Regions from separate parts of the Homo sapiens genome. Here region 2 is linked to region 1. Evidence: fine-mapped expression QTL. A gene starts in region 1. The other region holds a variant in brackets. All regions are shown on one strand. Distances are from middle to middle. Region 1 holds the start of TBC1D12 (TBC1 domain family member 12). Region 2 holds the start of NOC3L (NOC3 like DNA replication regulator).

Region 1 (8,332 bases):
CCGCCTCAGCCTCCCAAAGTGTTGGGATTACAGGCGTGAGCCACTGCGCCCAGCTGCATTTCAATTTTTATAGACAGGAAAGGGTCAAGGATCTGAGGGAATGTTACTTTTAGGGCTCTGACAGCCAAGTCACCATAAACACAGAAAGGTGTCCATGTGAAGCTGAAGCAAGCCCCCAGTAGGGACTGAAATAGAACTCACCTCATGTGGAAGGGAAGGAAAGTGGGAGATGACCACTAAGGCCCTCCAAATGAAAGCAGTCATATTCTAAATGAATTCCTGTTTTTCCTATATATCTACCAAAATGATGTGTCTTAACATAATACTATGTAGTAATAGATACATTGTGTAAAATGCTCCCCCCTCTTTACTTAAGTAAACATAAAACTGTTTTTTTTTTAAGGTTTCTCGTATAGATTTTTGCCTAATTAAGGGAAAGAGAAGAACGAAGTGGGAAGGGAAGAAGAAGGAAAGCATGGAGGATAAATAGGTGGGAGAGAAAAGAGCCATAAAGTGAACAAAGGTTGTAGACTGAACATAAACATGGATTGGGAAATCAGGAATCCTGGTTTCAAATCCCAGCATGCCACTAGCTAACTAAATTACCTTCTTTAGACAATGAGATTCCTCATCTAAAAAAATGAAGTGGGAGTAAGGGTTGCACCCAAGAACAAGATTCCATCCCAAACAAGCCACTTCCAAAGAGAGCCCTCACCTGGAGCTTCAGAGTTGAGAATAGCAACTATGCATTTAGGGGTAGGGTTGGATCTCTTGGGTTGTGTTGTGAGACAGGGGTAATTTCTGATTATTTTCACTGAGGATGGAGATTCTGCTCAAAATTACACTACCTAGCTAGAGCACAGTAAAAGGGAATCCATGAAAGCTACCTATTCAACCCAATCTGAATGGTGTTCTTCATACCAGTGGCTAGGTATTATAGATTCAGAGATGAATGTCACAGTTCCTGCCTTTAAGGTGTTCAGAATTCATTTAAGAAAAACTGTGCCTCTCTGACTCTGCCCTTTCTTTCCCAAGAATGTCATATAAAGGAAGCACTGACTCCTAGAGTCTTGACATTCAGACCTCTATCAGGAAAAATGAGGCTTAGAGAAATTAACTTTAGGGCACCTGTTTTCTGACTTCAAATCCAGTGCTCTGACACATATGAATAATGTGGCCATATGAATGTCATCTAGCTATATTAAGTTCTATTAGTCTATAAGTAAAAAAAATTTACAAATTAAATCAAAATTCCTGCCTACTTAAAACACATGGGAAATGAAAGAAAAAATAAAATTCCTGCCTACTGTTAATAATATGAAAGCCTCCTATAAATAACATTGTTGGCTGGGGCAGTGGTTCACACCTGTAATCCCAGCACTTTGAGAGGCTGAGGCGGGTGGATCACCTGAGGTCAGGAGTTCAAGACCAGCCTGGCCAACATGGTGAAACCTGGTCTCTACCAAAAATACAAAAATTAGCCAGGCGTGGTGGCGGGTGCCTGTAATCCCAGCTACTTGGGAGGCTGAGGCAGGAGAATCACTTGAACCCAGGGGGGCAGAGGTTGCAGTGAGCCAAGATGGCACCACTTCACTCCAGCCTGGGCAAAAGAGGGAAACTCCATCTCAAAAAAAAAAAAAAATGTTCAGAAATTGCAATGTATATATATGCATCTGTCTTCAAACTTAATCCCCATTAGCCTGCACCCCACCTGCAGGTAAGGGACAGTTTTCTAAATCATCTCTATTCACAATGCATGGCAGAGAGCAAGAACTCAAGAGTATACTAGTTGAATTTGTTATCTCCAAAGCCCCTCCCAGATCTAAAATTGCCTGACATCTGACCTCAAAACATGACCAAGATAGATATGACCAACAAACACCCAAAGGCCACACAGTGTCACAAATTTATAAACCTAACTCACCTTGAGATCTTTTAGAATACTGCCAGTACAAGCTTTAAATATATTTTTGCAACTATATTACAAATACAGATGTCATTACTACATATATTGTCCTGAGTAACAAAAAATTAGGATTTTCCACTTTTGATTTAAGAAACTTTATATTTGTAAATTTATACAAGCAAAAAAATAAGGATAAACTAGAAAGAGGAATAAGAAATATCAATTATAATCAGAAAATTGTGCCTTTATGTCTACAATATGTACGCTAATTGTATAACCTGCTAAAACTTGAGCTAAGAATTTGCTTCTTTCACTTCTGGTTATAGTCAAGATCCCCGAAAAGGTAGAAAAACAAAGTAGGGAGAACTCTGTAAAGGAAAGTTTTACAAGTTGGGAATATTTTCCTATTTGCCTGGGGACTTAAGAAAAAAGAAGAAGAAGAAGAAGAAAAAGGCGTGTCAAAATCTAACTCAAGGAAAACTGCCTTTTTTTTTTTTTTTTTGAGAGAAGTCTAGCTCTTATTCCCCAGGTTTCAGTGCAATGGCTCGATCTCAGCTCACAGCAACCTCCGCCTTCTGGGTTCAAACGATTCTCTTGCCTCTGCCTCCCAAGTAGCTGGGATTAAGTCGCCTGCCAACATGCCCGGCTAATTTTTGTATATTTTAGTAGAGACGGGGTTTCACCATGTTGGCCAGGCTGGTCTCGAACTCTGACCTCAGGTGATCCACCCACCTCGGCCTCCCAAAGTGCTGGGATTACAGGACTGCTCTTACAGTAAGGTGTATTAAGTATTTTCTGACTACTCTTATTTATCCCTATTAAATCAACAAACCTCCATCCTGAAATCTGCGAAGTCCAGCACCATAATTTAATTTCTTTCTTTTCTTTTTTTTTTTTTTTGAAAGACGGAGTTTCGCTCTTGTCCCCCAGGCTGGAGTGCAATGGCACGATCTAGGTTCACTGCAACCTCTACCTCCCAGGTTCAAGTGATTCTCCTGCCTCAGCATCCCGAGTAGCTGGGATTACAAGCACCTGCCACCACGCCTGGCTAATTTTTGTATTTTTAGTAGAAACCGGGTTTCACCACATTGGCCAGGCTGGTCTCGAACCCCTGACCTCAAATAGTCCGCCCGCCTCAGCCTCCCAAAGTGCTGGAATTACAGGCGTGAGCCACCGCGCCCGGCCCATAATTTAATTTCAAGAATATCCTGTCAAATCACAAATACAATACCATTTTTTAAAAAAACTAAAGTTATTGGGGAAAAAAAGGAGAGGCTTATCTGGGAGATTAGAAAAAAGGCTTTCCTTAGTAAAAGCCCTACTTTGGCTTAAAAAGTTGGGATAAAATTCTAAACACCAAACTGCATTTTAATAAAGACCACTGAAACAAACGATTAAACACTATGAAGCACAACCACTTCTAATTTCAAGAATTCCCAAACCACTTGAATGGATTTAGACGCTATGCAAGCACAGCAAATAAACAGCTCTACAAAATGACTTCCTTCTCTCTTTCACAACCACACCCGTACACACATACCGCCTCCCCTCACCACCCCCCCAACAACCTAAATGTTTGTAGTAAAATTTTTAAAAATTGGAGACGGAGATGGTTATCTGCTTTTCCAGAAAAGGCAACTGCATATGTGGCACTAGACAGCTGGCCCAACCTGACTGCTCAGAAGCCAGGTATGAATGGCAGGTACAGCCTCCCGCGGACAAGGCAACAGAAAGACTCGCTGTCCACAGAGCTCACAACTTCTCCTATAGAAACACAAAGCCGACCCAGTTCCTCTTCCTCCAGTGACAAATCAAAGCTAAGTCCTGACGCGTGTGGGGCTGGCACGGAAGCGGCCGACCAAGCTCTCCGCTCCGGCTCCGGCTCCGGCTCCGACTCCCACCAAGACCCCGGCTCCGGCCCCGGCCCCGGACCCGCCCCGAGTCCCATGCAGCCTGCGCTGTACCTGGTGAAGAAGTCCGCGAAGCCGCCACTCCGTCGAGCCCGGGCCGAAGCCCCCGCAGGACCCTGCTCCGCGGCGGGCAAGGGCACCGGCGGCCCCGCCGGGGGCAGGTGATCGCGGGCGCTCTGACCGCGGCTCACCTGGAACGTGTTGCGAGAGTTGAAGTGAATGTCAGAAAAGCCCAGGCGCGGCTCCGCACCCCCATTAGTCCTCTCGGCCGAGGTGGCAGGGGGCGCGCCCTCCTCGGGACCCCCGGCGCCGACTCCCCGCTGCTCTGAGTCCTCGCTACTGCTGCAGCTGCTGGCGGGGCTGTCCCCCGAGTCGCTGCCCGCGCCCTCGGGCTCCTGGGCGTCCGCGGCCACCAGGCAGCAGCTCCGCAGCGGGTCCTCAAGCGGAGAGGCCCAATCGGACGGGCTTCCCGCGCCGTCCGCGTCCTCGTCGCCAGGCCCCTCCAGGCGAAGGCGGCCGTAGGGGCGGCGGCGGCGCGACTCCCGGCCGCCGGCGCGCGCCAGCCCGCGAGCCTCTTCCAGATCGCGACAGTCCCGGCCCGGCAGAAAACCCGAGTCGCCGTTGGTCATGCCTTCGTGCCGCGGCGCGCGGCCATCAGCCACCTCCGCGCCGCGGTGTTTGGAGCCCGAGCCCAGCAGGCAGGCGTCCGATCGTGGGGCTGCCGAGGGCGGCGGGGCGCCGGCCTGGCCAGCGGGGAGCGGACAGTAGCAGAGCCCCGGCTCCAGCTGCTCCCCGGCCGCCGCGAGGTAACGCTGAAGGAGCTGCCGAGGCGGCGTCTCCTCCTCCTCGTCAGCCTCCTCCTCCTCGTCAGCCTCCTCCGGCGGCTCCACAGCGCCGACGCCTCCGCCAAAGCCGCCCGTGGCCCGGATTACCTTCCTGTCCTGGCCCACGGGGTCCGGCGCAGGCACCGGGAGCAACTTGGGGTTTCTTCCCGAGCAGGCTCCGGCATCCTCCGGACCCACCATCTGGGGGTGGGTGGCGGCCGCCCCAGGAGGCAAAGAAGGACTACAGGCGCAGGCTTGGCCAGAGAACAGCTCTGGGTGCTGGGGCCGCGGCGACAGCCGCCGCAACGTTCCCAGACCCACCCCTCCCACCCGCTGGGTCGGACAGTTGCTTGAGGGCGGGCACGCGCCAGGACTCGCGCACGCGCAAAAGTCGGACCGGTCAAGCCCCGACCTGGAGATTCCCCGAACCATAGAGACGGTAGCTAGAGAGACGCAGGCTGCCAATCTAGGATCCGCCATCTGGATGGTGGAAGCTGGTTGGCCCGCTCTAAGCGTGACAGTTCTTACCGAAGCGCGGGTATTGCTCGCTTAGCAAAAATTCACTTGATGTATTTCATTTATGGTAGTAAAATACTCCCATATTTGGGAGGTGTTAGCGTGGGTAAGTCCTTCCAGCTCTAATTGGTCACCAGTCGACTTTACGATTTTTACATCCTTCTCCGGCATCATTGCCACAGTTCAGGGCTTCATCACTTCATCCAGGAGGGTCAACACCCTCCCTTCTTCACTTCATCTAACACAAAAGAAAGATATCCTAAGTTATCTTGCTCACCTAGCACCATGTTTCATCACAGTCCTCTGTTTAAAAGATTATCACCGGCCGGGCGCGGTGGCTCACGCCTGTAATCCCAGCACTTTGGGAGGCCGAGGCGGGTGGATCACAAGGTCAGGAGATGGAGACCATCCTGGCTAACACGGTGAAACCCTGTCTCTACTAAAAATACAAAAAAATTAGCTGGGCATGGTGGCGGGCGCTTGTAGTCCCAGCTACTCGGGAGGCTGAGGCAGGAGAATGGCGTGAACCCGGGAGGCGGAGCTTGCAGTGAACCGAGATCGCGCCACTGCACTCCAGCCTGGGCGACAGAGCGAGACTCCGTCTCAAACAAGAAAAAAAGATTATCACCTAAGGAGGGAGAGGAAGTGGTCAGGCAGAGAGGAGCTATTGAAATAATTCCAGCACTCTGCGATAGTGGATTAAAATGGGATGATTGACCATTGAGTGGAAATGAAGTATATTTAAAGTAAAAGACGAAAGACTTGATAACTGATCAGAAGTGACAGAAGAGAGAGTAACCAATGATTACTACAAAGATATGAGACTGAAACTGATATGGTTTGAAGAAATAGAAAAGTGGATAGGAAAAAAACGATTAATAGGGGAAATACATCTGGTAAAGTAAACGACTGAAAATATCCAGCATATAGAGTTCTAAAACTTGAGTTGGCTGGGCGCAGTGGCTCACGCCTATAATCCCAACACGTTGGGAGGCCGAGGCAGGTGGATCACCTGAGGTCAGGAGTTCGAGACCAGCCTGGCCAACATGGTGAAACCCAGTCCCTACTAAAAATACGAAAAATTAGCTGGGCATGGTGGTGGGCACCTGTAATCCCAGCTACTTGGGAGGCTGAGGCAGGAGAATCGCTTGAACCCGAGAGGCTGAAGTTGCAATGAGCCCAGATCGTACCACTGCACTCCAGCCTGGGCAACAAGAGGGAAACTGTTTCAAATAAATAAATAATAAAACTTGGGTTAGGGTTTAGGTTCAGAGACACAGATTAGGCGTCATCTGTATAATGCAAGTAGGTGGATGAATCATGAGTAACATTACCTAGGAAGAAAGAATAATGATAAGGGTCGGGCACAGACCCAAATGTTTCATTATTTCAGGACAAAAAAGTTGTATTGCAAGAAATTGAAGAGGCATCAGTTGTGGATAAAACGAAGCAGAAAATATAGACCACTCATTCTATAAAAGTATATAGAATATAGACCACTCATTCATTCTAAAAGTATGTTAGTGAATGCAAGAACAGAAAATAGAAGTCGTAGAGGAGACATTATTGTCAAGCATTTAAAATTTATTTCATATAAAAATACCTATACATACAGATATAAGAGGGAATATAACCTTTATATAATAAAATGTCAATAAAATGGGCATGCATGTACCTAACACTCAATTTAAAAAAACATCAAGAGGCCAGGCGTGGTGGCTCACATCTGTAATCCCAGCACTTTGGGAGCCAGAGGCAGGCAGATCACTTGAGGTCAGGAGTTCAAGACCAGCCTGGCCAATATAGTGAAATCCCATCTCTACTAAAAATAAAAGCATAAAATAAAATAAAATTAGCCGGGCGTGGTGGTGGGCGCCTGTAATCCCAGCTACTCAGGAGGCTGAGGCAGGAGAATCGCTTGAACCCAGGAGGCGAAGTTTGCAGTGAGCCAGGATCGCACCACTGCACTCCAGCCTGGGCGACAGAGGGAGACTCTGTCTCAACAAAATAAAAACATCAAGTGTCTTCGAAAATAAGCGTTATTGAAGGCCCTAGGAAAGGACTAAGTGGCAAAGGCATAGTCAGCAATGCATTTATTATCAAGGTATTTCAGAAGGAAAAAATGACTTTCAGGACACGAGTGGAAAAAATATAAAAAGAGAGAAAATATTTGCAAATTGTATATCTGGTAAGAGTGCAGTATCCAGAATAAATAAAGAACTTGTATAAATCAACAACTGAAAAACAACCCAACTAAAAAAATGGGCAAGGGACTTGAATATACATTTCTCCTAAGAAACATATGTTAATGGAATATTAATAAGCATATGAAGTGATGCTCAACATCATTAGTCATTAAGGAAATGCAAATCAAAACTACAATGAGATAGCACTTCACACTCACCAGGATGTCTATAATCAAAAAAATAGAAAACAAATGTTGAAAAGAATGTGGAAAAACTAGAACCTTCATACATTTCTGGTAGAAATGTAAAATGGTGCAGCTTCCATGAAAAACAGTTTGGTAGTTCCTCAATAAGTTAAACATGGAATTACTTATAAGCCAGCAATTTTACTCCTAGGTGTATACCCAAAAGAATTGAAAACAGGTGTTCAAACAAAAATGTTTTACGTGGGTTGGGCACAGTGGCTCATGCCTGTAATCCCAGCACTTTGGAAGGCCGAGGCAGGTGGATCACCTGAGATCAGGAGTTCAACACCATCGTGGCCAACATGGTGAAACCCGATCTCTACTAAAAAAATACAAAGGCCGGGCGTAGTGTCTCACGCCTGTAATCCCAGCACTTTGGGAGGCCGAGGAGGGTGGATCACGAGGTCAGGAGATCGAGACCATCCTGGCTAACACGGTGAAACCCCATCTCTACTAAAAATACAAAAAATTAGCCGGGTGTCGTGGCGGGCACCTGTAGTCCCAGCTACTCAGGAGGCTGAGGCAGGAGAATGGCGTGAACTGGGGAGGCAGAGCTTGCAGTGAGCCGAGATCGCACTACTGCACTCCAGCCTGGGTGACAGAGCAAGACTCCGTCTCGAGGAAAAAAAAAAAATAGCCTGGCTCAGTGGTGCCCGTGCCTTTAATCCCAGCTACTTGGGAGGCTGAGGCAGGGAGAATCGCTTGAACCTGGGAGGTGGAGCTTGCAGTGAGCTGAGATCACACC
Region 2 (8,332 bases), 37 kb after region 1:
GCAGCTTTGGAATAGAGACCTAGAGACAATACATCCTTGTTTTACAGAACGTTCTTTCACAGCGAGCTCCTAGCAGAGTCTGGTACAGAGTGGAGGGTGAAAAACTATTGCTGCTCAAAGGACTATCAGAAACTGTGCATGACTTTGTGCATGGCATCCACTTTTCCTTCCCTAGGGATTTTGAAAGACAATGAATAAATAAAGAATGGCTTTGAACAATCAATGTAAGTAAAGAAACAGGAAATGTCATTTCTTAGCTTAATTTATCAACAAACATCTTAAATAAAAAAGAACATGTATCACAACCCTAGGAAAATCCCTCTAAAATTTTTCCCTGACCATAATATTGCAGATTAGGAAAACAGCTTAAGGCATTTGATCCCTTTTGTTGGAAAACTATTCCCACTAGCAGGACTGGCATCTTGTTATGTTTCCCATCTGGTGTAAACACAAACTTGGCCACACTGTAATATCTAATCCTGTAATTCATTAATTAAATAAAAACAAATTAAACACAGCTAATATTTATATCATAAGATTATTGAGGATTCAATGAAATAATTCATATCTAGGGAAACATAAAAATTACCTAAATAAGTGGTACGCTGGGGTCCTCTGAATTTGATCTTGAGTTGAATCGTGTCCCCCCTCCAAAAAAAAAAAGATATGTTGAAATCCTAATCCTTGGTAACTATGAACATCATCTTATTTGGAAAGGTCTTTGCAGATGTAATAAAGTTAACATGAGGTCATTAGGGTGGGCCCTTAATCCAATATGACTAGTATCCTTATAAGAGGGGAAGACAGACATGTGAAGACAGAGGGACACATGGAGAATAATATGTAAAGATGGGGGCAGAGATTGGATTGATGCATCTACAAGCCAAAGATTGCCAAGGATTGCCAGCTGTCACCAGAATCCAGGACAGAGGCATGGAACAGATTCTTCCTCAGAGCCCTAAACATAAACAAACAATGCCAACATCTTGATTTTAGACACCTTGCCTCCAGAGCTGTGAGATAATACATTTTGGTTGTTTTAACCCACCCAATTTTTGGTTCTTTTTTACGGCAGCCCAAGGAAACAGATACATAAGGACTTGAGTGCAAGTGGTTTATTTTGAAGGTGAGTCCAGGAACCATTTCTAGCAGGGTGGGGTTGTGAGGCAGGGAAGCAAAGGACACTAATAGTGTGTGCTGATGAGTAGGATATCTCTGCAGGTGGAACTCAATCTTTGGGAGACAAAGTGGAAGATGTCTTAGAGCAGGGGTCCCCAACCCTGGGACCACAGACCTGTACCAGTCCGCGGCCTGTTAGGAACTGGGCTGTACAGCAGGAGGTGAGCGGCAGGTGAGTGACATTACTGCCTGAGCTCCGCCTCCTGTCAGATCGGTGGAGGCATTAGATTCTCATAGGAGCTTGAACCCAACTGTGAACTGCACATTTGAGGGATCTAGGTGGGACGCTCCTTATGAGAATCTAACTAATGCCTGATGATCTGAAGTGGAACAGTTTCTTCCTGAAACCATCCCCCACCCTGATCTGTGGAAAAATTATCTTCCTCAAAACCCGTCCCTGATGCCAAAAAGGCTGGGGAGCGCTGCCTTAGAGGTGTTCTACCTCTGAGGATTAAGGACATTGGTATGTTTTTGTTATATTTTATTGGTATATTAGCTTTCTATGGCTGCTGTAACAAATCATCACAAATTTGGTGGCTTAAAACACAGAAATTTATTCTCTCACAGTTCTAGAGGCTGCAAGTCTGAACTTAATATCACTGGACTGAGCTCTAGGGGAGAGTTTGTTCTTTATCTCTTCCCCTTTCTGGTGGCTGCTAGAATTCCTTGACTTGTCTACATCACTCCAATCTCTGCCTATTGTAGTCACATTACCTTCTTGTCTGTCTGTGTGAAATCTCCTGTCTCTTAAATGGATTCATGTGATTGCCCACTTGCATAATCATTTCATCTCAAAATCTTTAACTTAATCACAACTTTGCCTGTATAAGTTAATATTCATGTTTCCAGGGACTTAGCCTTCATATATTTGGAAGTCATGTTTCAGCCTACCACAATTGCTATAGTTATCCTTCAATTACCATTTGTTGTTGATTGAGGATGCTTCCAGTGGAAAAATCTGTGGCACTTCAGACCTGCCCTACAGGGGTCCAGAAAAAGTCCTTAAGTGAAAATTTGCAAGTGCTCAGAGGACTTTTTCAGCATGTATGGAACACGAAGTACTGAGGATATGTAGACGAGACACCAACAACATTTGTGTAGGGCCCCCAGGAGACCTCCCGCACAGCCCCTTGCGGCTTTCTTTCTGTGTCCTGAATAAAAAATTAGAGTGCCTTGACTGCTCTGTGACCTAGCCATCTGCAGGTTCATCCCAGCAGGCTTCAACACAAACTGGGGCTTTGAACAGTCCCAGGCACTGGTAAAAGTATCTAAGTTGTTGCCCAAAACACTGAAAGTACTGGCTCAGGCCCTGAGTCACATACCTTAAACCCTCATATAAACTCCGTACCCTGACCCCCTCACTGTGGACATACCTAGGTCCACACCCCTTTTCTCTCACTGTCCATCATGAGGATTGCCACAGCACTCTGTAGGTAAGTTCTCCTAACAATTGTTTTGGGTTGATCACCCCGGCATTTAATGCTTCTTTCGGCCAGGCACAGTGGCTTACGCCTGTAATCCCAGCACTTTGGGAGGCCGAGGCGGGCGGATCACCTGAGGTTGGGAGTTCGAGACCAGCCTGACCAACATGGAGAAACCTTGTCTCTACTAAAAATACAAAATTAGCCGGGCATGTTGGCACATGCCTGTAATCCCAGCTACTCAGGAGGCTGAGGCAGGAGAAGCACTTGAACCCGGGAGGCGGAGGTTGAGGTGAGCTGAGATCGTGCCATTGCGCTCCAGCCTGGGCCACAAGAGTGAACTCTGTCTCAAAAAAAAAAAAAAAAAAAAATGCTTCTTTCTATGGCATCCCAACTGGGGGCCTTTTCTCAAGACAGTTTGGGACACACCGTTGTGGGAACTTCCCTGTCGCTGCTTTTGTTTGTTTTTGAGATGGAGTCTTGCTCTGTTGCCCAG[G/T]CTGGAGTGCAGTGGTGAGATCATAACTCACTGAAGCCACTAATTCCTGGCCTACCACTGCTTTTGGGGTGATTCAAGCTGTGGGTTCAGCAGGACAAAAAATCTGCTACATCATTATTCTAATGTTTGCTATTATTTTGGTTTTTGGTTAATACTTTTAATTTAATAATTAATTATAATTATTAGCTATCTTAACCTAATTTTCTGATGCACCACAATATAAATTATTTGTACTACCTGAGTGACCTTGCTTAGAACAAATTATACCATCTATTTAAACTTTGTCCTTTCTCCTGTTCTCATTTAGGTATACATTGCTCTATGACTTCCTCTAAAGCAGCTTGTCTTTATTTTTTAGCACCTATGTGATCTTTTCTATTATTCTCTATTTGGTAATTCATAATTATCATTCTCAACTACACACAAACACACACACACACACACACACAATTTCTCAACAATATTTTAACATTTTCAAAGGTAGAGACCATGATATACGTATTTTCAAATCCTTTCTTTTTTTTTTTTTTTGCGATAGCCTCACTCTGTCGCCCAGGCTGGAGTGCAGTGGCACCCTCATAGCTCACTGTAGCCTTGAACACGTGGCCTCAAATAATCCTCCTGCCTCAGCCTCCCAAAGTGCTGGGATTACAGGCAGGAGCCACAATGCCTGGACAGTAATATCTAAATATTACTTAAATATTACAGTTATGTTTTTTTAGCTCTCTGATAGTGAGTTGTTTTTTTTTCCCCTTGGCTGTAGCACTATCTCAAAGGTCTGAACAGAGATTCTAGACTCCTTCCCTCCCCTGGATTTTATTTTACTTTAGTTTAGTTTTGTTTTTGTTTCCCCTGAATTTTAGGAAGGGAAACAGAAAGAGGCCTAGGCAGAGCCAAGCACTTCGACATAAGGGAGGACTGTATATTGTACAATTCCAGGGGCGTCATTCACAGTTTATTTGTAAAGATAGCAAACTTTTTTTTTTTGATCTATGACAGTGAAGTGTCTTAAGGACATGGAAGCTTTTTCTAATTTCCACAGGTCCCCTTTGGGTGAGCTGTAGGGCAACCTGCCTGCCTCTTTTATGTCTAAGATGATTGACAGTGATAACATCCAATTACGATGTTTATTTTCTAATTTGTGATACTGAAGTGTGGGCTTTTTCTATCGCCAAACACTTACTACAAAGTGACAAACATTCATATAGTCCCTTATTATAACTTATGTAAATTATCTTGTGGTACTGGAAAAAAAGAAGCCTTGTTTATTATTCCATGTCCACTTAGTGACAGTTTTCAAAACTGTTTGTTTATAGAAAATGGATTAATTATAATACGGTAAATGGCCAAGAAAGCCCTTGCTTGTTGACAAAGATCTCTGGAGTATTTGGGATTCTAGCTGTGGGTAAAAGAAAGAAATAGGGAATGTTACAAGAGGTACAAGTGAAAAAAAATAGTTCTTTTGAACATGGTAATGTGAAGTCCCATGGTTAGGAGGTAGAGCTGTCCAGGAGGCAGATGGCTATAAGAATGAAGCTTGGGGAAGAAGTATAGGCTGGACAAAATCTCTTTGTAATAGGTAGATGGATGAAATCACGCTGGAAAAGCAAGTAGAGCAAGAAGAGTGGTAGACAAGTGGGCCAAGAGTAGAACCCTGAGAGTCACCTACATTGAAGAAGCCTAAGGAGGAAGAAATGGAGGTAGGAGGAGAACCTGGGGAACAGGCTATTAGGAAAGCCAAGGGAATCAACATTCTAATGTGTGAAGGGAGATACGCGTAGCATCAAAGGCAGCAGAGAGATCTAGTGAGGTTAAATGAGAAAGAAGTAATGTAATTCCGTACACAATTAGAAAAAACTCACAACACTTTGGAGGTTCTTGGTGACCTTAATTAGATCAGTTTCAGCGGAATGTTATGGGCAAAGCCACGTAAGTTCTTAACAGACTTCCTGAAAGTGCTAACAGGAATCTCCAGGTACAATCCCTGTGATACTAGTTTGGGAAAGCCCAGTGACCCTTATCAGCTCAAGTGTCCAGGAAAGCTCTAAGGGATCTAAGAGGATCTGGAGTCCAAATGGGGCTTGGCAGTGGATTGAGTGAAGAAGAGATGACACAAAGGTGGACACACAGAATTAAGAAACCAGCAAGATTAAATGGAATTAAAAGGAATCATATAAACTTCCATTTTTGAGTATTTTCGAACAACAGGCTGCTCGAATTCAAGATGGGAGAGATTTAGCTTGGCAACAATTGCTTTAAAATGATCCAGAGATTTTAGTTGATTGTAAACTTAAAATGGGCCAAGAGTATGACACAGTTCTTAAAAAAGCTAGCACATGCTGGGCATGGTGGCTCATGCCTGTAATCCCAGCACTTTGGGAGGTTGAGGTGGGAGGACTGCTTGAGCCCAGGAGTTTGAGACCAGCCTAGGCAGTATAGCAAGACCAAATCTCTGCAAATAATATAAATTAGCCGGGCATGGTGGTGCGTGCCTGTAGTTTCAGCTACCCAGGAAGCTGAGGTGGAGGATCCCTTGAGCCTGGGAGGTTGAGGCTGCAGTGAGCTGAGAGCTGCCACTGCACTCCAGCCTGGGCAACAGAGAAAAAAAATAAAAAAAGGCAATCTTTATATTAAAAAAGAAAATACTAGCACAGGATTGGGCTATGACAATAGAGAAGAGAAAGTGGAGACGCTAAAAGAATACTTTTTTCTGGAAGTAGGGACAAGTAGGAAAAGAGGCACATAAAAGAGCAATTAAAGGGAGATAAGTTTATTAGAACAAATCTTAAAAATGGAAGAGATTTGAATATGTTTATAAGCTGAGGGGAAGGATCTATTAGAGAGGGAAAGAACACAGGAAAGAAGGGATAATTAATGATACAAGAATCTGATGAAGCTGGGAGGAGTTGGTTTTGAACTGGAATGGGGATGCCTCATCCTTGGAGAGACTGGAAGGAAGGCTAAAAGGATGGGAGTGACTGTAGATATGTTGATATGCTTGGGAGGGAATTCAGGCACTTGGGAAGAGCACAGGCTGATGTTTTCCACTTGTTTGATGAAGTAATACTCCAGCGGGACAGGCTCTGCTGTTTCTGACACTGTGTGGAAGGAGACAGAGCAAGGAAGAAGTTGGAAGGGAGGTTGAAAGAAGAGTGCCAGATGGACCTCTTGGTCTTTGTGGTGGGATCAGGAAATTGGTACTTTTTTCCCTCAGTCTCTCTAAGAGCAACACTATTCAAGGGGCTCAGAACCCTTTGAGCCGCACTACTGGGTTTTCCCACCTGCTCAGGACTGCGAGGCCAGACTCTGTGTCAGGGCCATGCTCAAAAATCATAGACTCAAAAAAACCCACAAAAAACTTGAAGTGGAATGCTTAAATTTATTGAGAAAAAAAAGTCTTTGAGAGACAAGCACTTTGATACTCTTATTCTTGCAATCCATAAAACTTCCTGTAAAAATGAACGACTTTAGGCGGGGCGCGGTGGCTCATGCCTGTTATCCCAGCACTTTGGGAGGCCAAGGTGGGCGAATCACGAGGTCAGGAGATCGAGACCATCCTGGCTAACACGGTGAAACCCCGTCTCTACTAAAAATACAAAAAAAATTAGCTGGGCGTGGTGGCGGGCGCCTGTAGTTCCAGTTACTCGGGAGGCTGAGGCAGGAGAATGGCGTGAACCCAGAAGGCAGAGCTTGCAATGAGCCCAGATTGCGCCACTGCACTCCAGCCTGGGCGCCAGAGCAAGACTCCGTCTCAAAAAACAAAAACAAAAAACGACTTTGGTGAAATTACTAAGCAGACAGAATTTACCCAAAGTTGTAAGATACTGAAATGCAGATACAGTTTTTTATTTTTATTTTTATTTTTTAGACAGTCTTGCTCTGTCACCCAGGCTGGAGTGCAGTGGTGTGATCTCGACTCACTGCAACCTCTGCCTCCTGGGTTCAAGCGATTCTCCTGCCTCAGCCTCCCGAGTAGCTAGGATTACAGGCGCACGCCACCATGTCTGGCTGATTTTTGTATTTTTAGTAGAGACAGGGTTTCACCATGTTGGCCAGGCTGGTCTCGAACTCCTGGAACTCAGGTGATCCACCCGCCTCTGCCTCCCTAAGTGCTGGGATTACAAGCGTGAACCACCGCACCCAGCCATGGATACAGTTCTTTATCAGCTAATGGTTAAAAATTAAAGCAAAAAAAAAATGCAAAATAAAACACTAAGAATCACAGACTTTTAAGTGACCAAGGCTGATGAGAAATCATTCGCCATGCTACAAACACGGCCAGAATGTCCGTCGAGGGGCAGGCATTACACACAAAAAATAAGCTTCTTTCTGCCCTCAGGACTGTATGGAGGAAAAAGACTACGAAAATCAGTATCTATAACAGCATGAGATAAGCAACGTGAGGAGAGGCACAAAATGCAATGAGGTGACCGAAAAAACCAAGTCCTCTCATTCTGAGAGGAGGAGCCCGATTTCCCCAAGGTTTTAAAAGAAATAAATAGGGCGAGAGTCAAAGAATCATACTCAGATAACCTTGCAAAATGCGCCCCTCCCGCCCGGCTTCCCGCCTTTGGCACCGACGCCCTCGGGGCTTCCCTCGTGCCAGTCCGCGCGCGCACGCCGGGGGGCAACCGGTCCAGGGCCGCGAGACAGTCACCGCGAGAGGGCGCGAGCCCGAACCTGTCTACGGAAGTCCCGCCCTCACTTCCGGCGGCGGAGGATTGGGAGGGACTGAAGGCCGTTTCCGGCTCTGGTAGTGTAGGGACTTCGGCACGTGTGTCATTCCCCGGGATTTCTGTAGTAACCCTGCTTCTGGTGAACTTGTCTGGCCGGCATTCATTTAAGGCCTAAGGATGAAGGCGGTAAGTGTCCTCAAAAGCCCGGTCGCCGCGGCCTAGGGCCCCTTCGGGTGATAGAGTCACTGCCTGAGTTAGCTTTTAGGCAGGTTTTCACCCGTGTCTAGGGGGCGGTGGTTTAGACTGGGGGCTTTCCATTCCTTACACCGAGCTCATCCTTGGTTACCCACTGTGTGCGCGCACCACTTCAGAGTATCACGAAGAGACAGGCACGGAGTTTTGCATGCGTGGGATTTCATACTTTGAAGGAATTTTTCAAGACCGTCTTTCGAACTCGTTTTTCACAAATGAGAAGCAGGGTCCTACCCTCAGCGAGTTTATAATGTGAGTCACGGTACCCATGAAGGGTAAAGAGATAGAAAAGCAAGTGATTTGTCCTG

Evidence for each region.
Region 2: its variant is fine-mapped to the expression of TBC1D12 in whole blood (INTERVAL, PIP 0.92).

The regions. Positions count from the first base shown.
Region 1 is chr10:94,399,123-94,407,454 of GRCh38, reverse strand. It overlaps TBC1D12 (TBC1 domain family member 12), which reads right to left and starts at 4,914. Exons shown (of 13, transcript NM_015188.2): 1 at 3,871-4,914. The coding sequence starts at 4,841. RefSeq lists enhancers at 3,407-3,706, 5,007-5,166 and silencers at 3,787-4,116, 4,187-4,676.
Region 2 is chr10:94,362,456-94,370,787 of GRCh38, reverse strand. It overlaps NOC3L (NOC3 like DNA replication regulator), which reads left to right and starts at 7,849. Exons shown (of 21, transcript NM_022451.11): 1 at 7,849-7,958. The coding sequence starts at 7,950. RefSeq lists a silencer at 7,646-7,775 and an enhancer at 7,916-8,175. The variant G/T (reference allele first, on the strand shown) is at 3,097.